2 separate regions of the Homo sapiens genome follow, and region 1 is linked to region 2. The links come from fine-mapping of genetic effects on gene expression. Tissue or cell type: whole blood. Region 2 holds a variant in brackets; the other region holds the start of a gene. All regions are shown on one strand. Distances are from middle to middle. Region 1 holds the start of PTGER2 (prostaglandin E receptor 2). Region 2 overlaps PTGER2 (prostaglandin E receptor 2).

Region 1 (15,470 bases), 25 kb after region 2:
TGAGTCCCAGTTCCACCACCCATTAGCTGTGGGACACAGGGTGAGTCATTTGCCTCGTCTGTACGATAGAAATCATCATACTATTTCCTACGGTGCTGTGAAGATAATGGGTTAATGCAAAAGTTAGCATTCAAAAGTCTGATTTTGTGGTCGATAATAATGACATATGAGGTTGAATTGGACTTCACTTGAAGGGACTGGGCCTTTAAAAAAAACTACAGTTTTACTTCCAAAATTTTGGAAGCCCTAGACTGGCATCTTTGGAGGAAGCAGTAATTCCAACCTGCCCAAACCTTGGGACAATGCCTGACATTAGTAGTTCTAGGTTTCTGAATTCCCCCATTTCCCTCCTCTGTCCACTACTGGAGTGCTGTGGAATAGACTGGTGTCCCACTGGGTACAGCTGTCCTCCTTGTTGCCAGTGGTTTGGTCCACTTTTGAGGGACAAAGAAAGCAGCTTGTTATCCTGAGGAAGGAGTGGGAAGAGATAGAGTAGATTGCTACTATTTTCTGGGATACAAGGAAGAAACTTACTTGGAATAGCTTATTAATAATTATTTTACATAACTAATATTTTGAATTGATAATATTTTAGATATATTGGGTTAAATAAAATATGTAATTCAATTAATTTTCTCTGTTTCTTTTTACTTTTTGTTATATGACTACTAGAACATTTAAAATTCCGTTTGTGGCTTGCATTTGTGGTTCACACTGTATTTCTATCAGATCATGTGCACTCCGTTAGAGAAACAGAAACATTTCTGAAGGCAACCATAAACCTTTGCTTCTAGAGCCCCCTGTTAGGACATGTGGAAATGATTCCTGCTTCAGGTGGGAGATTGGTATAGGCCACTTCTGACCACAATTTTAGTGTGGGCCAAGTAGAATAAAAGGACTTGGAGGAAAAAGCAACCTCCCCTGGAGGCACATGCCAAGGATTCTGAACAGCAGAATGTATGAACCAAACAGTAGCCATGAGCTTGAATTTTCAGATAAGCCCTTCAAGAAATAACTTAAATCAAGATAGTACAGCATTTCATAAAGCTTAAAGTGCTATGTAAGTGAAAGATACTAGCAATTATTCCCAATAATCTATTGACAAAATAAAATCCATCAGTGGTCAATATAAATTTTCTTACTAAGAGGTGACAATGCTTCCAATTTCCATTTTGTGTATAGTTCATCTGAATATGGTGTCATGGTAGCTCCAACAATGGAAGTCAGGGAGGCTGGCTTTCTGATTATGTTCACACTAGGATTTTCTCCGGCTCTTTGGGAATCTTTGCCAGAAGCAAAAGCAGTTTGCTGATAGTGTCAATGCTTAGAGGTGGTTTGGGGGAGCTAAAGCCCCTTCATAGTCTCCATCTGGCTCCCCCTAAGCCATAAACAGGAAATTGAAATAAAAACACAGCTTCAAAGCAAAGCTCCTACTCCCTCAACACCTTTTAGCCAGATTTCTGTGGCTAAGCCCCTTCTATCTGGCAACTCTGGAGCAGCCCTTGGCCTAATATTAACTGAGGGAGGGAAAACAATATCTATATCTATATCCACACACATATATTTGAATTTACAAAAACATAAGGCAACGATGGAATTCTCATGGTAAAAGGCCAATTTACATGAAAACAGGGCAACCTGTTGGAAACCACTACCTTTATTTAAAAAAAATACAGTTTATGCAATGGGTCAGTCATGATCAAAGAGGAGAACTTTTTCCTCTTGCTCGTGTAGGAAAGAGACTAAAAATCGTTTCACAAGTGTGTTATCACCCCAAACCCATTCCCAGGCTATTTAAGTAGCTGATAGTGGGGGATATTTTTATAAATATACTCACAAATGACAGATAAAACCCTAAGAACTGATTATCTTAATTCCCAACACCCTAAGACAGTCTTTCAGGAATAGTTTCTGATCCCCAAGCTGAATGCAAAGCTGTTTGGTGGAACTTGAAATGCTTTCTTTCATAGATATATGTTCTGCATCCTAGTGCTGACCTTCAAAAGCTGATTTAGCTCCTAACATAATCAAAAGCTCCTACCAGTAAAATAAATCAAAAGCATATAAGCCATGTGGGTTTCTACATCACAGCGTTTCTGTTGCATAAACTCCCCTGCTCAGAGTGGTATGGGAGATGCAGCCTCCCACAGTCCGACTTCATTTTATAAGAGGGCGTCTTTGAATATTCTATCTCATTCCCTCAAAGTGTAACCAATTCAGAACAGTTTCTGCCCTGACAGAGGATGGGGTAGAAGGGTGAGGACAGTGGGGACCAGGGAGAAGAGAACGTAGCTAAGGGAGTTAACTGGGCTGGGGAGGAGAGAATCATATTCAGACCTTTGGGACCCTGTGTCCCTTCCCATCCCTGAGGATGAGCACATGAAGATGTAAGAAGCAGTAATGGAGGCAGGAGATAGGATAAAGTTACTTCTCCTCCAGCTTTTACAGGTCAGACCTGTTAATAGTAGGCACTGCCCATCTCTTTTCTCCAAGATTGTGGCAGGTGGAAGTCACTATTAACTGCTTTGATGCTGCAGCATCAGTCTTGCTCTTCTGAAGATTAGGAAGTGGAGTTGCCACAACTCCCAATTCCTAGCCCCCGTAAGAGGCCAGCACATTCTCGGACATATTCCAGGCTCAGCTAAAACGTTACACTTGAGGAGACTTGAACTCACAGCCTCATATCATTTAGCAGTTAGTTAGCATCAAATAACTGCTAAAGTTGCCCCAAATCAAGGCAGCACGATGCCAGGACTTGGTCTCTTGTCCTTCAGTTCCCCAGGTAGCCCCACTCTTCCCTTCCTGAGAGGGACCAGCCATTCCTGCCTGTGGCTTTGTGCTCATCAAGTGCATAACTGTAAGCTGAAGGACACCTGTGTGTATTTCTGACAGTGACATTAAGAGCGTGTTTTGCAAGATATTACAAATGCTTAGCAAGATGTTCCTCCAAGTATTTCCTCTAGTTATCATTATGGTTTTATAAACTTTCATGGCCACAAAGAGTTACATTCAAATATATAAATTGGGAAACCTATAAACTAGATGTTTGTTGGACTTTTAGGACAAATAACAAATGCTCTAAACTTCTGCTTCAGGGACCCTTCTCATCTGGGACCATTTTCAATGGCAGCTGGAATGCTATGGGTTGGGTACTACATTTTGCCCTGGCAGGAACAGAAGGCAAGCATGGAGAACCAGCACCAGTGGATGAGAGGTACAGGGCAGCAAACTGCAGCTCCAGGTCGTCAGGCTGGAACAGTGACAGCCATCCTAAGGTGGAAGGGGCTGCCTCTTTCTCAATTACTAAGCCAAGATAGGCAACAGCGAGAAAGGGACACTGCCCAGGGCTAGGATGAGGAGATTGGCTAGCTTAGCTGAGGCCCAGGACTCCCTTTCGGACGGTCTGTATTATTGTATAAGAAACTCTAGCCTAGCAACGCCCATAAGCCAGGATAAGGAAGTGGGCTAAAGAGGAGGGGAAACTAGTGGGGAAGGCTACAGATCTTTACAAATTAGGACATATTTTTACAAGTTGCAAAAAGTTTGTAGGGCGGTGGAAAGGGTGGAGGCGTCAGGGGAGAGCATGAGAAGGCTGAGCAGAGCCGGGCTGTGGAAACGTAGGGAGTGACTTACCGTGAAAGGCAAGGAGCAGACGGCGAAGGTGATGGTCATGATAGCCAGGAGAATGAGGTGGTCCGTCTCCTCCGCCATGGACACCCTTTCCCCTCTCCTGCGGGCCCCGGGGCCGCCCCGGCCACTGCCCAGGGAAGGTCCGCAGCGGCTTCTCCGGCTTCGGCGGTGCATGCGGATGAGGTTGAGAATGACACTGAAGTTGCAGGCGAGCACCGAGACAATGAGAAGCAGCAGCAGGGTGGCGTACAGCTGCAGGTAAGCGGTCCGCCCGTGCCGGATGAAGCACCAGGTCCCGGGGCAGTACTGGACGTACTGCCCATAGTCCAGCAGCGGCAGCGAGCAGAAGAGCAGGGAGACTGCATAGATGACAGGCAGCACGGCCAGGCCCCCGGAGCGCGAGACGCGGCGCTGGTAGAAGTAGGGGTGCCCGATCGAGAGGTAGCGCTCCAGGGCCATGGCGAAGAGCATGAGCATCGTGGCCAGGCTGAAGAAGGTCATGGCGAAAGCGAAGTAGGTGCACGCGCGGCTCTCGGGCGCCAGTGCCACCAGGGTCTGGTTCCGCGCGTACGAAGCCAGTACCACTGGGCTGATGAGGCAGGTCCCGAGCAGGTCGGTGAACACCAGCTCGGTCACCAGCACGTGGAACAAGGAGAGGGAGCTCCTGCGGCCGGCGCTGCACCCCACGTCCCCCCGCCAGCGGCGCGCCAGCAGCGCCAGTGCTATGAGGTTCCCCAGCACCCCGGCCGAGAACATGACGGAGCTGATGGCTGGGCTTTCGCCTGGGGGAAGCCACTGTCGCGTCTCGCAGTCCTCAGACTGGGAGTCATTGGAGGCATTGCCCATGGTGGGGTGCCTGGAAAAGAGATGCGCCCTCCTCTCCCGGCCTTTACCTGGGAGGAAGAGGGTCTGAGAGCCGGAGCGTTCCGAGACTCAGAGGAAAAAGGGGAGGGACCGAAATCCAGAGCCCCCTTCCCGCACCCAGCGCGCCGACGGCGGCTTGCCCTGGGTCTCCCGCCGCGCGCCGAGTGGCGGCTCGGCTGCTGCATCCGAGCGGCGCTCGAGGCTCCCGCGCCTACCCGCGCCGGCCAAGGCCGGGAGCCAGAGCCTAGGGGAGCCGTCGTCTCCGCCCCCGCACTGTCGGGGGGCGGGCCCAAGAGTGCTGGCCAGGCCTTGCAAGTGCGAGTGTCCGCGAGCTGCAGGGGAGGCAGGACGCGTCACACTCGCGGGGGCGTTCCGAGTCCCTGGGGCGCGCCGGCGGGGAGGGAGAGAAGGAGTCTGAGCACCCGCTGGGCGCGGCACTGGGCAGAGGCGCGCGTGTTGCCGGTGTACTGAAGCTGCCCGCGACCGGCGGGAGCGGCGTTTCTCGCTTCCTCGGGGTCCGGTACTCGAAGCGCACGGCAGTCTGACCTCGGCTGGGAAGCGTTAAGCCCCAGCAGAGGGCTGGGAGGGAGTGCAGGAGCACTTGCGGGGTCTGCGCAGAATACACAGAAGATCGGGGCAACGAGCAAAGCAAAGCAACTCACCAAACAATGAAGTTAGGAGAACCCAATCCCGTGAAATGAGCGGAACAAGGGAATAACAGTGCAAAGGCAGCTTGAAGTAAGACCAGAATGTTTTGCTTTGTTTTTACTATTCCCAGGAAGATACACTAAGAGGTTGGGACAAAAATTGGGATGAAGCGTAAAGCAAGTGTGTCCATCCAAGGAACCAAACCACACAATGCGCACCACCGAGCGGCCTGTTGCACTGCCGCTTTGATTCGGTTACTAGCATTTCACCGTTTCCTATGTCAACAGCATAACGGATAACCACTTGTTTAAGCAACCATTAAAAAAAGAGGAGTGTGTCTTATACAGAATTGTGTTTGTGGATACAACATGAAAACCATTGCACATCACTGTTCTGTCCTTAAGCTGAGCCTTGTAAGAAAATGTTGATATTTTGTTTAGCCGTTTATCTTTACATGTTGTTAACCACGTAGTATCCATCCAGAAAGACTTGTTCCTGGCAAAGTGTATTGGTAAGTGGCCAGTTTCAGACTGGAGCTGACAGTAATGGTTTCCTACCACATATTGTCATAATTGCAGAGTCGTGAAAATGGGCTGATATTTAACACAAAACAAAACAAAACAAAATCCAGTTTGGCAGACAACATAGGTAATTGTGTTCTGTAAGAAGTCACATTCACTTGGGGAAGGGAGGCCAACTGGGAAGTGAAGGGTCTGATCTGCCTAGGGAACTGGCAAGAAAGACAGTCATAACGTGGGAGGAAGCAAAGATTGCCTGCTGAAGAGCCTATCTTGCTACAGCCTGCTTACTCTCCATGAATATTTTTTGCCAACTTTGATGATTCTGGCCTGGGGATTGGAATGCGGAGTTGGGGGGGGTGGTTCCCACTAGAACAAGCATAATTTACTGGATCGCTTGCAAAGTTTACAGGCCGGTTTTCACATGTCAGCAGGCACTACTTCAATCCCTAAACTTCTCATGGCATGGATTCCTAGGAAAGAGGATCTTAACTCCTACAGTTTTTCTTTCAAGCTGTAAACTCTGCAGGTCAGTAACAACTTATTACCAATCTTTGCCATCCATCTCTGACTATTCCCCTACTCCAACATTCCCCCATCTCACCCCAAGCAATGGGGAAACATCAAACTTAAATCAGAAGTATTTCTTAATAGGAAAACACTATGATTTATAGCATAATTCTGCACTGCAGTTTTACTATTAAATAAGGGATTTTAGATTCACTGAATTTGCACAGTGCTTATTTTCCGAATATTTTTATACCTTTTTAATTTTCATAAGGCCCCTCACAACAAAAACCTACTATTTAACCTTTCCTATATATTTGTCTCTAGCTTTTCTTTGGATGGGTACCTGGTGGCAGGCCGGCCCCTGGTTTTTGTGAATACGAGAGCAAGAGTGCAGTTGAAGATCCTCCCCCAGGCCCCTGCCCCCTTGTCTTCCTAACCCCTGACTCAGTCTTGCACCACAAGGAGTCTTGCACAGAAATATGTGGAGAGTATAGTTCAATATGTGGACAGTATAGTTCAATATGTGGACACTATAGTTGTTGATAACCAAGCTCTCTCCCCAAAGCCACCTTGGTCCTGGGAATATGCATCTCAAACATGCAAATGACCCTTGATTGGATGGACCTAGGGAAGATGCCTGATCAAGCCCTGGAAGCGAGTTATGGGACCAACATTTGAGCAGGAAATTTCATGATCTCAGGTACCTGGAAGGTGGTCTAGAATGGAGGGGTAATGGGGTCTGGGTGAATAGTGCCCTGAGGGTGTCTCACCTGTGGTAAGGTATGTGACAAGAGGAAGACTAGAGTGGGCCCTATAAATCTTGGGAGGCCAGTATCCTATTAATTACTGTGCTGCTCAGCATTGCTTGTTCAAATTACTCCTTTTAATTGCTTCCAGCATTTGGACAGAATACATACATATGTGTGTGTGTGTGTGTGTGTGTGTGTGTGTGTGTGTTTGGTTTAGCAGTTTGCTGTGTTCCCTGTTGCTAGATTGCTGAGTAGGAGAGTTGATAAGTTTGCTGTCGCTACGTAGCAACTGGACCATCACGTTTGTTCCTTTAAGTGCAAGTCTAATCTTGCTTGTCAGTTACCCCCAGTTAATTTTGTGGTTTAAAAGCTACTTCTTCCCATTTCTAATTTTAGTGTCAGCATTTTGATACAGTTTCAGTTTACATAGAGCCTAGAGTTCCTTAACAGAAAACAGATTAACACCCTCAATTCTAGAATTGAGCCATAGAGCTTTGCTAATTGTTTAGTTCCTGTTTGTGGGGCCATTGTATGTGGGGAACACTATGTGATGGTTAATTTTATGTGTCGACTTGACTAGGCCATGGGATGCCCAGGTAGCTGGTTAAACATGATGGCGGGGTATGTCTGTGAAAGTGTTTCTGGAGGAGATTAGTGTTTGAGTTGATGGACTGAGTAAAGCACATGCCCTTCTCAGTGTTGGTGGGCTTCATGCAATCCATTAGGGCTTGAATAGACTAAAAAAGTAGGGGAAGGTGAAATTCACTCTCTGCCTCACTGCATGAGTGGGGACATTGATCTCCTGCCGCTGACACTTATGGTTTTCAGGCCTTCAGACCAGGACTGGAATCTACACCACTGGCTCTTCAGCTCCCAGACTTTCAAACTTTGTCACCAGCTTTACTGGGTCTCCAGCTTGTACATGACAGATTGTGGGACTTCTCAGCCTCCACAATTGCATGAGTTGATACTTTATAATAAATATCTTTATGTATATCCATCCTACTGGCTGTTTCTCTGGCAAACCCTGACTAATATACACTTCTTAAAGTCTAAAGTTCATAGTGTTCATTTATGTATCCATGAATTCAAAGGACTGTGGAAGGTGGGTTACTTCCTTTAGGTCATTCTTCAAGAGAAAGCAAAGATAAACATGAAGGAAAGGAGAATTGCTTGGGCAAAAAGCTAACATTAATTCTTGTTCATAGTTTTATTGATGTTACTTTCCTCGTTCAAAAGACGAGTTTAAATTTATATTTTATGATTCCTATGCATGCATAAATACATTTTTTTTTCAAATTGAGTCCTAAGAACACCATCTGTGTCCTGTGGTATTTGAGACAAGGTCTACACTTCACGGCAGGAAGCAGAAGCCACCAAGAAAAGAGACAGGGTTTATTGGAAGTACACAGTGATAGTTCACTGCCCACTGGGGGTCTATTTTTTTTCTTACTAAGAAGTTCAAAGGTTGTAGGCTGGTTGAACTTCCAGGAGCCAGGCTGCTTCTTCCTCTAGCCCTGTGATTCCTAGTAATGCTGGCTTTGTGTCTCCATGCTCTCCCCATGTAGCTAGCAGCTGCTGCCTGTATCAGTCAGGATTCAACCAGAGAAACAGAGCCACTACGAGTGATTAAGAAAACATGGAATTTATTATTAGGCACTAGGCCTCCCTTGACCAATATTGTAGCCATTAGCCACATCTGGCTATTTAAATTTAAATTAATTAACATTAAATAAGAGTAACAACTTAGCTCCTCTACAGCACTGGGCACATTTCAAATGCTCAATAGCCACGTGTGACTTGTGGGTATCATATTGGGCAGCTCAGGTGCCCAATAAAACACTTCCATCATCACAGAAAGTTCTACTGGACAGTGCTGCCCTAGACCTTGCAGGATGTGAGACCTGGTGGAGGAGTCCTGGCATGGCTGTTTGTTGTCTTCGGTTCTAGTGTTGAGTCTGAAGTCACTATAGGTCAGTCAGGATTTCAGTCAGGGCAGAAAGTTGGATGTGGATGATAGCAAGAACAGACTGGAATCTGTGAGAACAAACTGAAATTCATGAATGACTGAAGTCCTTTAGGACAGACCGGATCTGCCTGTGTCTCTCACTGTCTCCAGCCTCAATAATACAGGTGTCCTGCAAAACATGCTGGCACCCTTTACCGAGCTACAGATGCACTTGGCTTAGGACTTGAAGAAGCCATAGGAGGAGATCTGGTGGGAGCAGGAGGAACTGTGAGTCTTGCTGCCCCATGCCAGCAAGGTGAGGCAGCAGGTCAGCGACAATGCGTGAGAACTGCCAATGTTCCTCACGCCTTGTGTTGTCCTTCACAGCATAAAAACCATGGCTGCTGCTTGGTTGCTGCCTCCCAGATCTCATGCAATATTTCCCTTGTGGCCAATGCTAACCTGGAACTATGGGAGGATTCTGCGTAACAGATGCTGCTTAGCTGGACCAACACAATACGAAGCCAACTACTGTCCCACGGGTCTAGGCATCAAGTCTACATGGAAGCCAGGGGCAAAGGAGAGACAGTGCTGGTGAGCTTGCTCTCTCTTGTGCCTGTTTCTTCCATCAGGAAAGCAAAAGGCTTTCTAGAAGCATCCAGATAGACTTCCCTCTGTCTTTTTAGCCAGAATTTGGTCATATTGTCATCCCTTAACTCCAAAAAAGGCCTACAGAGGGGATGTTGGGTTTTTCCAGCCTCTTCTAGAATAGAAGCAGGGAAGGGAGAGGGGCTGGGAATGGCTATTGAGTTAGTCACCCAAAGATGCCTACTGCAGATCTGCATGGTGCATTCCCCATCACTCCCCTACTGATAGCTAGAGAAGAAGCTCAAGAACGCCTATTCCAAATCCTTCATTTGCATGTGAAGAAATGGAGGCATTGAAAGGTTAAGTGGCTTACTCAAGGACACACAGAGTTAGTGCAATATATCTGGGAGTATGGTAGCAAACCATCTTATTTATTCTCCAGGCCACTATATATTGCACATACTGTCCATTAAAAGCCAGAAAGAAGTACATGGCAAGATGCTCATCCTCAGCACTAGAACCAAATCACTCAGAAAAATTTGAGTCTTACTTTTTGTCTGATGGTAAAGATTGGTAAAGTTTGGAAAGATTACGCACACCCAGTATAATCAGACATAGAGAAATGGGTCCGTTGTTGGTGACAGTATGAGTGCAATATTTATATGCATAAGGATTTGCATAGAACAGCATCTATAAGGATGTTCAACAAAATATTAATAGTAATTAAGTAGTACTTTCTTCTTTATACCTGTCTGTTTTGGTTGATTTTTCTGTAAGTATGTATTACCTTTATATTAGAATGCAAGGAAGCTGATTTTTGATTAGAAAAAACATTATCATCATTGGAGGACATAGTCTTCCTACTTAGTAGAAGGCGGGGACTTAGATGTTAATGATTTAAATTCTCTTCCAGTTCTACTCTTTAATGAGTGGGCAGGTCATGCCAGCTGTTTGAAGCCAATCAAGAGGATTGGAGATACTATTCTTATGCTTTTCACAAGGGTTTTACAACTGTCATGCTTACTTGAAGATTGGAAACCATTACATATGATGTGTCGTTTCTATCAAAATAATACCTTCCTTCACCTCAAGCAACTACTTCGACATTAGATTATTGTCATCCCCGAATGTCATTGCTTAATCCAGTTCTGACACTAGCATTGCCAGGAAGTTCCTTTTTCCTAAAGGTGGTAACTAGTCCACCAAAATGTCAAAAAAAAAAAAAAAAGTAGTCAATAGAAACCGACTTCCAGATAGCCCAGATTTTGAATTTAATAAATATGTTCAAAGAATTAGAGAAATTGTCAATGGACAAGTAGGGAATCTCAGTAGAGAAATGGAAACTCTAAAAAGAACCCAACGGAAATTCCAGAATTAAAATTTACAGCAGGTTGGAATTGGCAGAAGAGTGAACTTGATGACTAGTCATTTCTTTCCATGTCCTCATTACTTCTGCATTCATGGGAGATATTCTCACTCTTTCCATACCGTGTAAGGCTTAGGGAACTATTGTTTTCTCCTGCTCACCCTGTTTATACCCAAGTGAGGCATAGGTTTTCTGTGATGTCAGATCCCTGAAACTTCTCTGAGATTTGGGAGTACAGGACCACTTTTTTAACAAATCTCTGTGTTAACATCTAAGCTCTTCTTCTTCTCTTGAGCTTTACCCTCTCTCCTTCACAGGCTGAGGAACTAGATGGGGGAGAAGTGGTGAAACTTTGCTATTCTTCATTTTCTGTCATCTGGGCCTCCTCTAAGCCTAGGCTTTTGAAAGTCAAGAATTGATACCTGTGTTCTTCAAGGTCTGTTATATTGTTCTTTCTCTGAGGGAGTAAGCAGAGAACACCCTAGCTGCTGCTAAAACTGAGGAAAGCTCTGGAGTATCAGGAAGTACTGGGCAAAAAGTACAGAGGTTGATATGTCAAATTATTATCCGGCTACATTTGCTTTCATGTAGGTGTGTATGTGTATCCAAGGTTCAGTGGAACTCACTACAACCTCACAGGATTGTTTGTGAAACAATTTGATAAAGTCTTTGCAAAACCCTGAGTCAATAAAAAGCACTTTGCAAATGGATGCAAGAGCACAACAGTTCTCTTGTCCTCAGTCAGGAAATATCAGACAGGTAAATCTACAATACTCCTTATTAGCGCCAGGAGTTAGATCAAACAAGTTACCACGCTCGTTTTAGGAAGGCAGATTACCTGTGACCCTAATTTCCTTTCTAAGATTGATAGAGGATAAAGAGTGCCATTTAATCATGAAAATTCTTTTTCTTAGGTTTGCTTTCAAGAACAGAACCAACTGTGAGGTAGAACAACACATATAACACCAAAAGCAAAGCTATGGTTATTTAATTTGTTCTTATAAAGTAACAACTCACTATAGAAAATTTAAAAAAAATAGAAGGAAAAAAGTCACCTATGAATTGTCCTTCAGAAATGGTAACTCTTAACATTTTGATGAGTTTCCTTCCATTTTTCTTCTGTGCATTGTTTTTCATAGTTATGATAACATTGCATATAAAATTTTATTTACTGCTTTTCAAAAACTTAACATTATAATAACTTACCTTACATATATGTTTTAAAAGCCTTAAAATATGTATGTCCTGAGACCCAGAAATTGCATTTCTAGAAATCTATCATATTGATTTCTGTATTTACTGGGGATATATTTACTGAGGCAGCATGGTATAGTTTTAAGAGCATGGGCTTTGGAGTCAGATTGCTGTGAAATCAAACTTTAGCTCTGTTCTTAAGCAAGTTACCTCACTTCTATGTGCCTCAATTTCCTCATCTGTAATATGGGGATAATAGCAGTACCTGTAATATTTCATAAGTTCCAGTTGAACCCAGGGCCTGGCCCATAGAAAGCATTCAGCGGGTGTCAGCTGTTTTAATGTTGAGCACTTATAATGTGCCAGGCCCTGAGGGACCATGCTGACATGGTCTGTGCCCTAATGAAGTTTATAATAATAGTGATGACAAAACCAGTTTATTAAGGGCTCGTTATATTCCTAAAACCGCTAAGGGCTTCATACGCATTATTTCATTCATCTTATTTCTTTTTTTAGAGATAGAGGCTCATTTTGTCACCCAGGCGGGAGTGAAGTGGCACAATCATAGCTCACTGTAGCCTTGAACTTCTGGGCTCCAGCCATCCTCCCGCCTCAACCACCTGAGTAGCTGGGACTACAGATGTGCACTATCATGCCTTGCTAATTTTTCAGTTTTGTAGAGACAGGGTCTCACTATGTTGCCCAGGCTAGTCTCAAACTCCTGGCCTCAAGCAGTCCTCCTGCTTCAGCCTCCCACAGTGTCATTAATCTTTATAACAATTCTATAGGAGGGGTCAGATATATCTCCATTTTACAGATCAGAAAACTGAGGCTGAAACAGTAAGTATTCAAAGTTGTAAGTATAAAGAAGTTCCTTTCAGTATTATCTATAGTACATTAATATTGGGAACTAGCCCAGCTGTCAGTCAAAAGGGAGTCGTACAAATATGTGTATCTGTTCAATGGAATATTATGCAACTACTTAAAAATATACCTCTTCATGTATTGACATGGGTAGTTATCTACAATGTCGAGTGGATGAAGTGAGTCATGAAACACTATGTATAATGTGGTTAATTTTTATAAAAATAAACACTTATACCAAGATATAGGGCTAGTGGATTTTTTTTTTTTTTTTTTTTTGAGACGGAGTCTTGCTCTGTTGCCTAGGCTGGAGTGCAGTGGCGTGATCTCTGCTCACTGCAAGCTCCGCCTTCCGGGTTCACGCCATTCTCCTGCCTCAGCCTCCCGAGTAGCTGGGACTACAGGGGCATGCCACCACGCCCGGCTGATTTTTTTTATTTTTTAGTAGAGATGGGGTTTCACCGCGTTAGCCAGAATGGTCTCGATCCCCTGACCTCATGAGCCACCCGCCTCGGCCTCCCAAAGTGCTGGGATTACAGGCATGAGCCACTGGGCCCGGCCGCTAGTGGACTTTTTATTGAAAAAAAGGTTCCAGTATATACTCCTCACTGTTATCTCTTTTCATAAACATTAAATTTACTTATTCAAATTCTACTTATTAAAGGAACAAAGCTCAATGTTAAAACAATTATCATTTTAATAAATAATAAATATTTAATACCTAGTATATTAGCTACCTATTTCTGTATAACAGGCCACTTCAAAATGAATTGGTTTGAAACCAAGTTATTTTATTGTTTTATGTTTAGTGGGTCAATTATGTTGGTCTGGACTCAGCTAGGAGGTTCTCGTGCTGGTCTTGTATGGACTCATTCTTGCGGCTGTAGTCTCCTGGTGGCTTGAATGCGGATTGGTTTGTCTGGGAGTCCTCAGCTGGCAGCTCTTGTCTCATTTCCCACCAGGTTAGCTTGGGCTGGCTCCTATGGTGGCATAATGTTCCAAAAGGGTGAAAGTGGATGTTGTAAGGCCCACATGCGGAAGTTTCACACCATCACTTCCACCACATTCTGCTAATCAACGTAAGTCCCAAGGCCCGACTGGATAAAAGGAGGGGGAAACAGACAGTACCTCTTGATGGGAGCAGTGTGCATACAGCGATGAAGGAATGATTTTAGTCATTTTTGCAAATAATCTGCCATTCCTAGTATAAAATCAATGCTTACCATAATTATTATATTTACACAATAGCTTTATTTTCTTTCACATGAAAACAAAAAGTATTAACCCACAGAGAATTTCACTTCTGGACCATTTATCATACTTTGAATTTCTGACTCACTCTCTACTGTGAGAAAGTAGCTATCACTTGACATAATTGGAAAAAGGGCAAAAAAGGAGTCAGCTTATACCCTGGACGTTTGCCACTTCCATTTCTGTTACTTGCCCCCAGGATCCAATACATAGTATCGCAATGGGAAATACCAAATCCCCACTCTCCCTTCTCGAGTTTCAGCTGTTCCTTCTGTGTTTTCTCCAGTGTCCTCACATCAAATCCAGGAGAATTAGGAGAGAGGAGAGCACTGACTTCAGAAAGATAGCAGATGAAAATGTGATTCATTTTTATTATGTGAGGATGTAGAGATGTATTCTGTAATTTGACTTGATATCAAATATTGTCACAGAGGGTGTGTTTCGTTATAGGGATAATTATGTGCTGAAAGGGAAACTCTTCAAGGCTATTGCTGAGTTCTATGTTTTCTCCTTCCCATAGCCCTTATTGCCTTCTAACATACCATGTAATCTAGTTATTTATTGTTTTTTGTTTGTTAACTGTTTCCCCCTGCTGGGATATAAGTCTCCAGAGGGCAGGAATCTTTGTCATTTTAAATGATTGTTGTACCACAAGGATTAAAACAGTGCCTGGCATAGAGTAAGTGCTCAATACAGATGTGTTGAATGAATGAAGGACGGAGTGGGAGACTTGGCCAGTGCTGCTGGAAGGTCTAATAAGATGAGTGCAGATAACTGGCCTTGACTTTTGTAGAATGTACGTACACTGGGACCCTGCTGAGAGCTCTTTTTGTGGAATGGTGGGAATAAAAACCTGAATAGAGAGGAGCTAAGGAAGAGAATGGGGGAGAAATAAAAGGTGAGAAAGTAAAGCTAGGGATGAAGACAACAATATGAATGAGTTTGAAGGGCTTTGAGGGTGTTGAAAAATTTAGTGGTAGCTGGAGGGGCCATGAGGTCAAGAGAAGTTTGCTTTTTAAAATGGATAATAGCATATAGATGGAAATCATCCTAAAGGGAGGGAGAAAAAGATGATACAGAAGAGAAAAAGTGTACTTGCCAGTGCAGACACCTTGAGAACATGAGAGGGATTTTGGGCACAAGTAGAGGAGTGCCATGGAGAGCAGCAGGTGCCTTTCTTCCACTGAAGCAGGATGGAAGCCAGTGTATGTGGGCACAGGTGCGGTAGTGTGCTGGAGCTGGTAGCGCAGGATGAGGAGGTTGTGGAAGAAAAAAAGAGGGAATGTTGGTGATTTCAAGTAGAAAAGATCTGTATTACTTCCTGAAATAGAAAAGTGCAT
Region 2 (15,961 bases):
CCAGTACTATGTTGAATGGAAGTAGTGAAAGTGAGCATCCTTGTCTTGTTCCACTTCTCAGGGGGAATGCTTTTAACTCTTCTCCATTCAGCGTGACGTTGGCTGTGAGTCTGTCACAGATGGCTTTCATTTTTTTGAGGTATGCTCCTTCTATGCCTAGTTTCTTGAGGGTTTTTGTCATAAAGGGATGCTGCATACTATTGAATGCTTTTTCTACATCTATTGAGATAATCGTACAATGTTAGTTTTTAATTCTGTTCTGGAAAAGGTAAAGGGAAAGTCTCACCTTAAGCCTCTGGGAAGAATACAGTTTGGGCCAACACCTTGATGTCAGCCCTGCAGCTCTCATTGTGAACTCCTGCCCTTCGAAACACTGAGGTGATAAATGTTAAGTCACTAAGTTTGTGGAAATTTGTTGCAGGAGCAATAGGAAACGATTGCTTGGATGTTGTAGATAAATTTGGTTGGAACTGATATCTGTACATTATTGGGTCTTCCATTCATGAAAGTAATATAACTGTACATTTGGTCAGTCTTCTATGCCTTTCAATAAAGTAGTGTAATTTTCTCCATAAAGATCTTTCACATCTTTTGATATATTTATTCCAAGCTACTTTGTAATTTTTGCTGTTCATGGTATAAATTTTTAAAAATTATATTTTCTCATTTGTCATTGTGTGTAGGAACACTATAGGTTTTTCCAAGTTGATCTTTCCAGCAAACCTACTGAACTTAAAAAAAAAATTATTCCGATCATTTGCTTAAAGTGCCCAGTGGATTTTCCATGCAGACAATCATTATTTACAAACAATGTGTCTTCCTTTCTAACTCTCATATGTGTTTCTGTTTCTTGTCTCACTTCATTGGTTAGGTTTCCAGGCCAATAGAATAAGGCATTTTCTAAGGTATTTCCTTCTTGTTCTGGTCAACTGGCTTTGTAGGTATGTATGTGTAGGTATTTTTTTTTTCTATTGTGAATAAAGAAACAATGTGTACTGTTCCAGGGATAGCCTGTCCAAATTGTGAAACCTAGCCACTTCTTTTACTCTGTCAGTTCTATAAAGATCTTTCTAGAATGATCCCTCACCTTTTTACCATTTGTTTTCCTTGGCCTAAAAGACAGCCCTCTTGGGAAAGTGGGTAGACTCACCCTTACATGCCCTGTTTATGGTATGAAGCTAAAAATATCTTGGAAGGAAGCCAGAAGCCAGATAAATCTCAATGATAGGGTAATCTTTTTCTAGGATCTCTTTTATCAGCCTTGGATATCTAGGATAGTTATTTAGGATATCTTTTATTGGGCTCCCACCACCCCCTTGATGATGTGAGTGACCTTCAGAAGACCTGGTGCACTCACTTGGCACAGCACATGAACCTGGTGCAGGATTCAAAAAAGCTGAAGAAAGCAATCTAGCTCCTGTTGGAGATGCAGTGGGCCAGGCTGCTGTCCCATGGAGATCTGGGAGGAGATGGGTTGCTGGGGGCCCAGCCATTGCCCTCCCATGCCAACAAGATGAGTCAGCAAATCTAACAATGTGCATGAGCCACAGTGTTACCTGACCTAACGTTGCCCTTCAGAGCTTAAACATGGCTGAGGCTTTACTACTGCCTTCTAATTCTGGCAAACATTTTTCTTGTGGCCAACCTGAACCCAAAACCATGAAAAGAAGGGAGCTCTGGAAAACAGTTGTAGCTTAACTACATTGACACAATAAAAAGCCACCATGATTGTTGTCTTGCTAGATAGTCAGAAAGTATCTTATTATATATATCATATTGTCTTGTCTGTGTATACAGAATACCTGAACTGGGCCAAGTTTAAAAATTTTAATAAAGGTCTGTTAATTAAGGCTACATTTGAAGAGCATTTCTTTTGTTCCAATATTGGACATTGTCCATTACATTTTCTAGAATGCCTCACCGTTAGCAGTTGAGTTTTTTTTCTCTTCTTATTGGGATTAGATAACAAATGTCTGTCATATCATCAACACAAAAGACAGGCAATGTGGTATTAAGGAAAGAGTAGTTTATTTTCATTTAGTTCATATATATAACTAGAAATACATAATTGTACATGATTATTGTGTTGCATAGGTGACTTACCATTGTAACTTTCCTGAAATCCTTTCCGGAAGTACATAGGATACAAAAAATACAACTGGGCCAGGCGCAGTGGCTCACGCCTGTAATCCCAGCACTTTGGGAGGCTGAGGCGGGCAGAGCACTTGAGGCCAGGAGTTCAAGACCAGCCTGGCCAACATGGAGAAACCCCATCTCTACTAAAAATACAAAAATTAGCTGGGTGTGGTGGTGCACGCCTGTAATCCCAGCTACTCCAGAGGCTGAGGCACAAGAATCACTTGAACCCGGGAGGCGGAGGTTGCAGTGAGCCGAGGTCATGCCACTGCACTCCAGCCTGGGCAACAGGGTGAGGCTCCATCTCAGAAAAAAAGAAAAAAAATTGTATTTACGCATGTGTACTTGATTTTCAAAGGACTTTCCAAAGATAAGTCTGAAGAAGAAGCCTTTCAATCAACACTTTCATTTCTGGAGAAGAATCCTCTCAGTGAACACTGTTATTTACTGATGTTTGGAAACGCAATATACAGTCATAATGACCGCTTCACAATCAAAGCACAAGTTCTCTTATGTGTGTATTTGCTGATTTTTCTTTTGTTTAATTTTCAGCCAAAGCTAGATGCCCACGTTGGTCATTATTCTTAGTTCAAAATTCTTCACTCGAAATAAATATCTGAATGTAAAATAAGACTTTGGGATCAACATTTAAAGTGGAAGCCTACTAAAAAGTTTTTTAATGTAACATATGTGGCTGAGTTTATTATTTATGTCACTATTTGATATTTTATCTTGAATTCTTAGGAAACTCAAACTATAGCTTCTAGTTTTAGCCCCTGGGGTATTGTTTTTTGGCATAAGAAATGCAAATGCTTATCAGAGATCCATTTTATTTTGTTTTGCCTTGAGAAAATTTCATGTAAAATGATGTATTTAGATATAACACCATTATTTCTGAGATATCACTTATACTCTGAAAATCTTCATGAAATAATATACAGTTTTGTGACTGACCAAACTGGGCTTCCTTGTTTAGAGTTCTTGCTGAGTTAAAAGTTGATAGAATGAGTTGACAGAGATATGCCTGACTAAATCAGTGTTAAGTTTCGTTTTGCTTTGTTTTTTTGCCATTTCTTAAAAGCTGGGTGCTGTTTGTAAGATTATCTGCAGAGGGAAAAATAATTAGTCTAAGGCTTATTTTTCCACCTGTATTTAATTTCTTTTACAGGCTTGGATCATGGTATACTTCCACAGGTATTCGGAGAGATGAATATTATATTATCATAATTAGAATCTTAGGATCTACAGTGGATATGGAATAGGGTGAATTTTTTCAGAATATTATGAAGAAAACATTTCAGAGATATGTCTTCAGAGAATACACAGCATCAGAGAAAAAGCAGGGCCATTATATTAGTTTTACTTGCTCTGAACAGTTTTAGCAAAGGGTTGCAAACGTATTATTGATTACAATGTTGAATTCGTTTGATTTTCATTATGGTCATGGTAGGAAGTGCAAGTCAGGAATACCTTCCTCAGAGACTTAAGAGTGGTTAAGTGCGTAGCAGCACAGGGAAATGGAGGTGCTGCAGTCTGAGGGGCAGCAGGAACCCAGGCATGGAGAGGGGAAACTGGAAGTATCTCAGCACTGAGGGGAGGAAGCAGGTGTTGCCTGAAATGAGATGGGGAAGTGAGTGGACCCAGCCCATCCTTGTTTGACCACCAAGGGGCTTGGATCTTAACTCTGGGGATGATGGAAATCCAGTGATGTGGGGAAACTGATGACTTTGGAATGAATTGGTTCCTAGACAACAGTCACAGATTGGACTGCGAAGTCCTGTAGTTGCAGTGTTACAGAGTGGGGTTCTGTTCCTAAAAACCTATTTCATGAGAAAAAACTCAGTCATGAAAATAAACAGGAAAGAAATAACACAGAAATATATGCTTTTATAAGTGTGTGTTAAGAGCTTTGTAGTGAAGGCTGCTTTGGGGATTTTTTTTTTTTTTTTTTTTTTTTTGCGTGAACTCTATTGAAGTCGTCTTCTTTTCTTTGTAAATTTCCCTGTAGCAAACATGGGAATATTTCATTTTTCCAAGGACCTTTGGCCTCAACTAAAAGTTAGGGTTATTTGCCCCTAAAGTGCTGGCTGACAGTTTGATTGATTGGTTGATTGATTCATGTATTTGTTTACTCAAACATATTTATCGAACACCCACTATATGAGGTATTGTTCTAATAGTAAAAAAAAAAAAAAAGACAAAGGCCTCGCCATGATAGGAGACTTTTTTCTATGTGTAAAGAAAGACAATACATACACACACACACAAATACACACACACACACACACACACACACAAAATGATGACACAGATACTATATTGCCGGCTAGTGAGAAGGGTGATAGAAAGAAAAATAAACAGACTGAGGGGAAGGGGAAGGAGAGTAATGAAAATATTTTATCGAGTGATTTATATTTTTTATATTTATATAGACCAGGGAAGACTTATCTGTGGAGGTGACATTGAGCAGAGACCTGAACAAAATGAGAGAGCCAGCAGTGAGACTACCTGGGGGAAATACATACATGAATGCCTCCAAATGTCTTTGGATGGATGGAGACAGGTAGGGCAGTCACTCCAGTCACTACTTCTTTGGGGATTTCTTGCTGTGAACACAACATAGGTTCAATCAGCTGCAACACCTCTGGCTTCAGTGGGCTCCTCAGGCTCTCCAGTCAACTTCAGACTTGTTGGTAACATCTGTCACAGTCATCAGGCAAACACAAATATGGTGATGATGTTGGGAGGGGTGGTGGGTGGGTGAGGGTGTTGGTATTGTTGTTGCTATTTGTAGTGCTGTTGTTGGTGGTGGTAGTTTTGTTGGTGGTGTTGGTGTTGGTATTGGTGTTGGTGTTAGTGTTGTTGGTATTGGTAGTTTTTTGTTGTTAGCATTGGTAGTGTGTTGGTGGTACTGTTAATATTAGTAGTGTTGGTGAGTGTTGTTAGTATTGGTAGTGTTGTTAGTATTGGTGGTGTTGCTGTTGTGGTTAGTATTGGTAGTGTTATATTGGTAGCACTGATGGTGCTCTTGTTTGTACTGGTAGTGTTGGTGATGGTGTTAGTGTTAGTATTGTTGTTGTTAGTATTGGTTAGGTTGCTATTGTTAGTACTGGTAGTGTTGTTATATTGGTAGTAAGTCTAGTGTTGTCGTTGGTGCTGTTGTTAGTACTGGTAGTGTTGTTATATTGGTTGTGTTGTTGGTGCTGTTGTTAATATTGGTAGTGTTGTTGGTGTTAGTGGTACTGTTGTTAGTATTGGTAGCGTTCTTATATTGGTTGTGTTGTTGTTGGTGCTGTTGTTAGTATTTGTAGTGTTGTTGGTGTTAGTGGTACTGTTGTTAGTATTGGTAGTGCTGTTATATTGGTTGTGTTGTTGGTGGTGCTGTTGTTAGTATTGGTAGTGTTGTTGGTGGGTGGTGGTATGTGTGTGTGTAGGTCCCACATGATGAGAAAGGTTTGGGTAGCAGAGGATTGGAAATCAGTACACTATAAGTATGGGATCCTAAAAACATGATCAGATTCTCATTTTAAAATATCAATAATGATAATAATAACCGGCATTTTTAAAGATCATACCATGTACCAGACATTGTTTTAAGTATTTCATATGCCTCATGTGATTTTTTTGGTATGATTTTATCATTTGACTTTTTGCCGAAATCCTATGAGGTGGGCAGCTACTACCCTCATGATGAAGGTGAAAAAACAGGCTTAGAAAGTCTAAGTAACTTATTCAAGGTTACACAACAGTGGCAGAGTTAGGATTTGAAATGAGGTCTGTCCAACTTCAAAGTTCAAATTTTATACCAAGCACTGTGCTATTCTGTTTCCAAGGACAATACCCCTACACCAGGGTGGAGGATGGGCTGGGGAGGAGATTAGTACTAAGTAGATGAGGCAGTACTTGTGACTAATTTCCTGACAATCTGCTCCCTCCCCTGGGTATCCTGGTGCACAGTCTGCAGAGTAAACACAATCCTTCCATGCTTTTGAGCATAGATTTATGATTGACAGGAGAAGTGAGCAAACAGATTTCCTTATTGCTCTTATGGAAATGCATGGAAAGTTAAATGGAAATTTCATTATGCGAAAGGACTTATGGAAATTCATCTTTAAGAATAATAAATCTCCATTTGTGAGATTCAAAACCTTGTTGCATCTGTGCAGGTTGAAGTGAGTAACAAGAAGGTTGAAGTGCAGCTATTCTGTAGTTAAGAATGAACTCATTATTCTGAGGAAGCTGCAAAAGCCCACAAATTCAAATAATCACAATGTGGGCTAGACCTCTAGTGGGTAGACTACTGTTTTCTTTTGCACAGAATCATTTTTTCATATAATAGCTAAAATTATCATTAACTTAATGCTGAAATAACTGCATTATTTTTCCAAAATAAGTCATGTAAATTTAAATAACAGTTCACAGTTGTCAATGTATTTGGTTTATTTCTCTCTAATGGGAACAGAGTGATAAATATATAAATTCCTTTCATGTCATATAAATGCTTAGCCTGACTTGTTGGTAAACAAGTTGGTAAGACAACCACTCTTATAAAGAGCAGCTTTGGCTGGGCACAGTGGCTCATGATTGTAATCCCAGCACTTTGGGAGGCTGAGGTGGGCAGATCAAGAGGTCAAGAGATTGAGACCATCCTGGCCAACACTGTGAAACCCCGTCTCTACTAAAAATACAAAAATTAGCTGGGCGTGGTGGTGCGCACCTGTAGTCCCAGCTACTCGGGAAGCTGAGGCAAGAGAATCACTTGAACCCAGGAGGCGGAGGTTGCAGTGAGCCGAGATTGCACCACTGCACTCCAGCCTGGGCAACAGAGTGAGACTTTGTCTCTAGATAGATAGATAGATAGATAGATAGATAGATAGATAGATAGATAGATAGCAGTTTTGTGGACCACCTAATTCTCCAACCAGTAAGATAGCTATCACTGGCATTTAGTTTTGATATTCGTTTCATATATGCATCTTCATTCACAACTCAAAAACAAAATATATGAGGAAAAATTAGAGTGATAGAAATTAGATTGATTTTAGTTTACATTGTTAATGTATCTTTATGTGCAAACAGTATGGACCTTTTTTGGTTTGCTTTCTTTTGAAGGGAGTATGCCTACTGTTTTATTTTTTAATTGTTTTGAGTATCAAAACAATCATAAACTCACAGAAACATTAGGAGCACAGTACACATAACTTTTTCCCCCTGAATTATTTGAGATTAGGTTGTGGACATGGTGCATCATCATTCCTCAGTACCTCATTGTGTGTTTCCAAGGACATTTTCCTATAGAACCACAATTTAATAACCACAATCGGGTAGTTTACACTGATGCATTACTAACATCTATTCCTCAAGACCTATTAAGTGTTGCCAGTTGTCGCAATAATGCTCTTTATAGCAACAGAATCTAGTTCTGATTCCCCTGTTGTAGTTGATTGTCCTGTCCCATTAGTTTTCTTCAGTCTGGAATAGTTCAGACTGTCTTGACTTTCATGACTTTGACTCTTCTGAAGATTACAAACCAGTCATTTTGTAGAAATCCTTCAATTTGGGTTTGTCTGGTATTTCTCCATGATTAGGGTTAGGCTACTTCTTTCAGGTACTTCTTCGATAAGAAGAAATATCCCAGAAGTGACACTGTATTCTTAGTGCAGTTTGTCTTCTGGCTTAGAATTTAATTGGTTCTGTCACTGATGATAGTTTACTTTGGTCTCCCGATTACATTAGGGTCTGTCAGGATTTCTTACTGTAAAGTGATTCTTTCCCTTTGGTTATTTTATGGTCAGGTACTTTGAAACTTTGTAAGTCGCTTGTTTCTCATTAAACTTTCATTTTTAAATTTGTTTTTATCTGTGTGGAATCACTGTTTCCTATTTTTTTCAAGGGATCATAATCTATTATTATCATTATATATGTTGATGCTCAAATTGTCCCCAGTTTGGTCAGTGGGAATCCCCTTTCAAACCGGCTTCTGTGTTCTTGTGAGGTGGCTCTCTCATTCCTCAAGCACTTCCTTATAATTAAGATGTTCCAGGCTTGCTTTATACTTTCCCTGCCCCAGTTTTGAAGTCAGCCATTTCTCAGAGGAGCCCTGGTTCCTTTCAGGGGAAAATGGTATTTAGAAAACAAGACCTATGAGCTAGGTGTGCTCATTGCTATTGGATGGGGAAGAGGTTGCTAATCCCAGCTATTCTCAGTGGAGAGAGCTAGAGGATACACACACACACACACACACACACACACATTTACATATGAATTTATTTCCATATTTATCTCTATATATTGAAAAATATGAGCTAACACAATATCCCAATTCCAATCCAACACCACAGCATCCATTCCAGTTTTTTCCCCTTCATTTTTCTGTAACAGTGACTAAACTGTTTTTTGTTATTTTTAATATATTTGTTTATTTGATAAATCCTTCTGTATGTAGCCAATCTCCCATCTCCAACATCTTCCTCTCCCTACACCTCCCTCTTCCTGCTCAAGCTGTCAGTCCCCAATCTGAGTCCCCAGCTCACCCCACGTGGAGGCCATGCTCACCCTGCTTGGGTCCTGACAGCTCATGCTAGGCCATCCCACAAGTGCATGCCCATCTCACCCTGCTCAGGTTCCTAAACCCCATCACTGGGCCATCCCCTTGCAAGGATGCCCCATCCTCTCAGTCAGGCTCTGCCTCCCTAGAGCAGTTCACCCCATGTGGACAGCCTCCCCAGGCCCCTGGGCTCTGATTGTCCATGCAAGGCTGCTCCTGTGAATGGACACCCTCCTCTGCTTCAATCTGTTCAGGCCCCACAACCCAATACCAGGGCACCCACTCCCTCCCTGTTTGGGTTCCAGTGCCCCACACCATGTCACACCCCCTGTGTGAATAACCTTCTTATCTGCTTTGGACTCTGATGCCCACTGTAGGCTGCCTTTCTGTGTGAACACTCTCCCCAGTCCACTAGGGCTCCATACTCTGCACAGCAGCACCCCCATCCTCGCCCAACCTGAGCTTGAACAATCCGCTCCAGGCCCCTGCGTGGGCTCTCACACCCCCAGCTGCAGAAGCCTGCCTTAGTCTGCCCCACCCAAAGGGCTTCACATTGAGTTGTTCAGAGAGGAGGGGAAGAAAACAGGAGGAAGATGAAGTCTTTCAGAGACTGACAGAGATTGTATCCTTGACACTAGCCATTCGTTCATTCAACAAATATTTATGAACACCTACTACATATCAGACATGATCCTAGATACTGCAAATATGGTGGTGATAGGCCAGGGCCATGCCAATGGGGTTTTCCTTCCGGGGGAATAGAGTCGGAAATAGAGGGCCATTATAGATCTCCATTATGTAGGGTCAGTAGAATGATCCCTGGCTTGAAATCAGAAAACAGTTTAATTGTTCTTTTTTGTTGTTTTGTTTGTTTGTTTGTTTGAGATGGAGTCTCACTCTGTTGCCCAGGCTGGAGTACAGTGGCACGATCTCAGCTCACTGCAACCTCCACCTCCCGGGTTCAAGTGATTCTACTGCCTCAGCCTCATGAGTAGCTGGGATCACAGGCGTGTGCCACCAGGCCCAGCTAATTTTTTGTATTTTTAGTTGAGACAGGGTTTCACCATGTTAGCCAGGATGGTCTTAATCTCCTGATCTCGCAATCTGCCCACCTCAGCCTCCCAAAGTGCTGGGATTACAGGCATGAGCCACTGTGCCTGGCCAGAAAATAGTTTAATTTTTTAACTTTCCCTTAAAAGCTGTGTGATCTTGAGCTATTTGCTTAATTTTGAATACGTTTTGTCATCTGTAGAATGGGGACAGTGCCTACCTTACAGTGTTGTTTTGAAGACTAAATGAGATTTACCACATTCAAAACATGGTATGGGATCATTTTCAAAATATCTTTCGAAGAATATACTTGTTAGAGTAGGTAGCTAGGCAGACATGAGCTGGACAGGAGAGTCCCCGACCCCAGGAATGTCAGGCAGCCATTAGGTGGTAGTCAGCTGGTTGTTAAACTGTCTCTTTAAAATAATAATTGGTTGCAGCTGGTGCCAGGGAAAGGCTGTGTC[T/G]CAATAGATAGAAAACACCTGAAAGTGATGATCAGCACCTTCCCAATAAGATCTTGGGAGCTGGGTGAGCAGGCTTAAGCATGTGCACTAAGAGGCAAAATGGCAGAGTTTAACTGGTATATGACCCTCTTTTTGGAACACATGACTGATAAGGGAAAAGTGCCTCAGATGAGCATGCGCACAACTTCAGTAACCACCTTGCATGTGGCCCACCTTGCATGTGGCAGGCCACACTGTGCAAGCAGACAGCCTGCCCCAAGGGAAAAATCAAGGGAGGAGAAACAGAAACCCTGGAACTATGTCAATGTATAAAACCCCAAGTCAAGGGCCGAACAGCATGCTTGGATCTCTCAAGTCACCCATTTGGCCCTCTTCCAAGTGTGCTTGACTTCCTTTTGTTCCTGCTTTATAACTTTTTAATAAACTTTCACTCCTGCTCTAAAACTGCCTCAGTCTCTCCCTCTGCCTTATGCCCCTCAGCCGAATTCTTTCCTCCTGAGGCAAAAATCGAGTTGCTGCGACCCATATGCCCTCACTACTGTTAACACACTGAGTAAATAAAAAATAGAAAAAGGCCTTGAAATGTATAAGATATAGTTCTACGTGTATAGGACACTTGGCAAGTGTGAGATACCATAACATTAGATATCAAAACAGGCAGCAATCTCTGTCCTTGGGACTCACATTCTACTCGGGGGCGACAGACCATGAGTATTATATATAAGTCAATCTTGAGGTATGTTTAAGGTCACTCATAGATAGAGGAGGGCAAAGGGAATGGGGAGGGCAGGGGCGTGTAGTTTTAGGAAGAGGGTTCAGTAATGGCCTTACTGAGGAGGCATCTCTGGGGCAAAATGTTGAAGAAGGTGAGGAAGTGAGCCAGGGCTGCCTGGAGGAAGAGCATTTGTTGCAGGCAGAGATAACAGCCAGGGCAATGACCCTGAGATGGGAGCTTGCTGGGTGTACTCCTGGCCCAGCACGGTGGCCGGTGTGGTTGGAGTCGATGAGCAGGGGGAGAGACAGGAGGCCTGGGTAATGGAAAGTTCACCTAGATGGAAGATCTCCCTGATTAGACGTCTGCATTCCAATCCCAGTGTCACGATTCTCACTTAACCTTTCAGTGGTTAGTTTAAAAATAAAGTTATCAGGCTTTTTTCCCCATGTGATTTGTCTCTTAATCCAAAATTCCTGCTATGAAGGATTCCAGTTAGTAGCATTTTAATGTGCTCAAATAGAGAAATAAAGGAAAGTCCTTATTATTTGAAAAAGCCTTTAACACTGATAACAGGATGATTTTGTTTCCCCACTTAATATTTCTTTGCAGCCATTGTAGTTCACTATAACTTCATTGAAAACACAGAAGAGGCCGGGCGCGGTGGCTCACGCCTGTAATCTCAGCACTTTGGGAGGCCGAGGCAGGTGGATCACGAGGTCAGGAGATTGAGACCATCCTGGCTAACACGGTGAAACCCCGTCTCTACTAAAAAGCAAAAAATTAGCCGAGTGTGGCGGCGGGTGCCTGTAGTCCCAGCTACTCGGGAGGCTGAGGCAGGAGAATGGCGTGAACCCGGGAGGCAGAGCTTGCAGTGAGCTGAGATCGGGCCACTGCACTCCAGCCTGGGCGACAGAGCGAGACTGTGGCTCAAAAAACAAAACAAAACAAACAAACACAAAAAACACACACAGAAGAAATTTGTAGAAGACAGGAATCTGACTCTTCACCTTCCTTAGTTTTCCAGACTGGCATGTCATGGAAAGATGTGAACATCTGAAAGTGTTTCCTCTTGGAGTGGGTGTCCAGCTCCCTCATCACCATAATAGGTAGTCAAGAGAATAAAGTCTCTAGTTTACAATTAGGCTTGCTCTTCTTTTATCGGAACGCCTACTCACACCAGAAAAATTTATTTTTACAGGTCAGAGAGTAGTACACCACAACATGCAGCCCACAGTGTTTTGGTTATCATACCTTTCATCCTGCGGGGAACATGAGGACATTTATTTTTAAAAACATAAAAAGTTAACATTGGGTTTTCAAAACTCTAGGGCTTTTTGGCTTGTTCTCTGAACACTTCACAATGTGGACACACTGAGAAGCTCTGTAAGAGCTGAAAAAGTCTCCACTATGTCTTCAAAGGTTTGCTTGTGCTGCTGTTGAATTGTTAAACATTTTATTTATCATGATCTATCAGGCACACTCTTAGGACTGAGATGAGTATTGCCAATTAACTCTAGTAAAAATGTTGTTTGATAACTAAAAGCAGTGAGTTCCACTTCAAGAGAACTGTTCTCTGGGGTAGGGCACTGGCATCTAGTTGCACATAATCTCAGGGGCAAAATTATTAACCCAAAAGACCAGGTTCAACTGACAAGCCCAAAGCTCCCTATCCCTAGTGTACACAGCCAATCCAAAAGCAAGAGATAAGAGACAAGAGAGAAATGATGGCTGTGTGGTTTCAGGGCGGCAAGATCAGCACCATAATCATAAGGGTATCTTATGAGGATGTCCCTAGTGACCAACTCACTTCACCCCTGCACACCCAGTTTTCCTCTATGTAAACTGGAATGCTGTTGCTTCTTCCATCTGTTGGAGGTTTTAAAGACAGGACCTGGTTTCTAGATAGCTTTGTAATCCCAGGTTGCATTAATAGAAACATAATATCCAGATTAAGCCAGGAACTGATCTATCAGCATTCAGTATTGGTAAGACTGGTTTAGAATTACTGGTGTTTGGTTCTGGCCCACTGTTTTTAGATGGGCACTGATAACTTGGATAAGATCTGGAGGAGGGCACCAAAATGGTGAGGTGTCATATGCCCTGTTGTCTTTCTGTCTCTCTTGTTCCTTTTTTTTTTTTTTTTCTGAGACGGAGTCTCGCTCTGTCACCCAGGCTGGAGTGCAGTGGCGTGATCTCGGCTCACCGCAAGCTCCGCCTCCCAGGTTCACGCCATTCTCCTTCCTCAGCCTCCCGAGTAGCTGGGACTACAGGCGCCCACCACCACACCCGGCTAATTTTTTGTATTTTTAGTAGAGACGGGGTTTCACTGTGTTAGCCAGGATGGTCTCGATCTCCTGGCCTCGTGATCCACCCGCCTCGGCCTCCCAAAGTGCTGGGATTACAGGCGTGAGCCACCGCGCCCGGCCTCCTCTCTCTTTTATACTTACTCATTCCTCTACATTCTCCCATGTGTACCAATCTTCATTGCATTCTATGAAACGCAAATTTGTCCCATTTGTGTATTATCATTTTTCTTGACAGTTACTCAGAGTTAATTAATATATAGCATCACCCCTAGCACCCACCACCGCCATTGAGAATCAGAAATAAGAGCCAGATGTGTGTAAAGAGGTCAGAGGGGCCACTAAATGGGTATCTAAGATGATACTAATCCCTAACCTTATTAGGATTTATCATGTGCCGTGAAATACATGGATCACAGAATTAAACCACTAAAATTGACCTTAAATAATACATACATTTCATAAGAAATAAAAATATATCATTCAAGAGAATATACTTAATTTCTTTTTGTATAGTAACACAAAAGCTGCCAGGAAAAAAAAAGTAATTTTCTGAAATAAGTAATGCCTAATACATGGCCTTGGCCCATGTATAAATTAAAATGTAGCTTTTGTGAATTGCTAAAATAATACTTCTTTCCATAGTGTGTATTTTAGGTCATCAAAACGACTTGTAAATTTAAAAATCAATTATAGTGCTGTTAGGTGATTGAGAGGAAAGCCAGTGGAGTGAGTGTTTGATGAAGGCAGAAGAGAGGCATCAAATATTCAGGTTGTAACAGAGCAAGTAAGAGCAGGCATTGCAAGTCGACATGAATGAAATACTCATTTATAGAGAGGAATGCATCTCTCTCTATAACTGTCTCAAGTAGTGGCTCTTCCCAAGTTCCAAAAACCATTAGATTTGGCTTAAGCTAAGTGAAATAAACAAAACTCTGCCTAAGTGAGAGCTAATTGTCTCCCCTTGCCTTTCAAAGTCATCAAATTCTAAAGTGGAATGTGTTGTTATTTCTTGGTTCAGATCAGAGCTGACCTGCCATTAGCATTAGGACAATCCCTCTCTCAAAGTGCACTGATGCTGAGGAGACAGAGATGCCAAAGTGTAACTGAGTTACATGAGCGTGTAGTGATGTGAATCAGTTTTGCCCTCCCTCCTCAGGGTTCGAGACCTCTGCAAGCATCATGATTTGGAGTTGGAGTGGTTTCTAGAGTTTCGGTCTTGCTCTGGGTTGTCATGGGTCCAACCCACTTTGTGATGCAGGTCTTCTAGAGTCATCTTATACCTTCTAAACAAACTCAGATCCCGATCAGATTTTTGGAGATTCAAGGCCACAATTTAGCACCAGAATTTTTCAGTTCTTTCTTGGAAAAGATGACCAGGGCCACACTGAACCATTTAGGAACAATTCAGCTCAGAGCAGAGAGCTTGGTCCATCTCATATCGAAACACCTAAACTTAGGGCTGGCATGCTGCAGGGAATCCCGACTATGGTTTCTTTCTCCCTTTTCATTCTGACTACTAGGGGCAAAGAATAAAGTCTAGATCTTCTTTTATCACAATTCAGTCTTTAATATATCAGGCTAAGTAAATTCTGTTCTTTTATTTAACTTGATGATGAAACAGTAACTTAAACAGGTATGTCTGATGTGACAGGATTTTTAGAAAGGGAATATTTACATATCTAATTTTAGTAATTTTTTTCTAAGCTACCTTTAAATTGCCATTAATAGGAGGTAATGACTATTACAGAGTATTTTTACTTTCAACTCCTTCTACATATATATTGGTATAAATGAAATACCAGGATTTAGTCGTTCAGCACAGTACATGGAACAGGAGTACATGAGGAAACAGAGTTCTAGAAATATACCAGTGCTTAAATAAGTGGCTTAAATTCTTATACTTTGGGCTCCAGAGCAAATCATTTTGTTCCTGCTAGTGATATTATGTCCAATTTTGTGTTTTTGTTTTCAGTTCTCAGGCATTATTCTGGGATTTTAGGGGGGCAGTAAGGTGGGGTGAAAAATTGTAGTTGACATTTTCATCTGGAGAAAAACAAGTCATCTGATAAAAGTAATTAATCTTCTAGTTCAAAGCAACTTCAGAATTTTATGTTTAGGAATTACCCATGGGCCTAATTAGTCCCATTTAGAATAATTTCTTAACTTTAGAATGCCTGGTGGACAGGGAAGATTTATTTACATGTCTAGATTTTAGTTAAGTTAAATTTTGCCTGGCTTGTTTAAATTTGTAGAAAAGCAAACCACTTATTTATTCTTCTTAAGAGCTGATTTGACGTAGATTGTTTGTATCAAAATACACTGATGCCTAGATTGGTTTGAAATCATTCTAAGTGATCAGCTAGTTTGATAACTGCTTAAAGGAAATAGCTTTGGATAAACAACTCAATGAGACTTTGGAGAAAACAAGCATCTCTTTTTTTTTTTTAAGGAGTGGCTATCCAATAATATCACTATGAAAAAAATAAGATGATTCTACTATTTTAAAGATCATACTGGAAGGGTAAAAACTGGAGGAAAAAAATATCTTCTAATACCAAGTATTATAATGAATATTTTAAACTCTAATTTGCAACCTCACTTTAAAACCTGGCAACCACACTTTACGAATCTGCCAAATTAAATATAATTTTTCCACTTTGAACTCATTTAAAAGATACTATGTTTATATTAATCACAAAATGTTATTTGAGGGAGTTCATAAAATACTACTCCATTTTCAAAT

Evidence for each region.
Region 1: it holds the start of PTGER2, and the variant in region 2 is fine-mapped to the expression of PTGER2 in whole blood (TOPMed, PIP above 0.99).

The regions. Positions count from the first base shown.
Region 1 is chr14:52,303,555-52,319,024 of GRCh38, reverse strand. PTGER2 (prostaglandin E receptor 2) reads right to left here and starts at 4,713. Exons shown (of 2, transcript NM_000956.4): 1 at 3,634-4,713. The coding sequence starts at 4,476. RefSeq lists enhancers at 3,819-3,958, 3,979-4,128, 4,363-4,922, 4,923-5,483 and a silencer at 4,649-4,758.
Region 2 is chr14:52,328,598-52,344,558 of GRCh38, reverse strand. It overlaps PTGER2 (prostaglandin E receptor 2), which reads right to left. Exons shown (of 2, transcript NM_000956.4): 2 at 15,961. Among named protein-coding and RNA genes, the nearest start is that of PTGER2, 22 kb to the right of the region's middle. The variant T/G (reference allele first, on the strand shown) is at 10,198.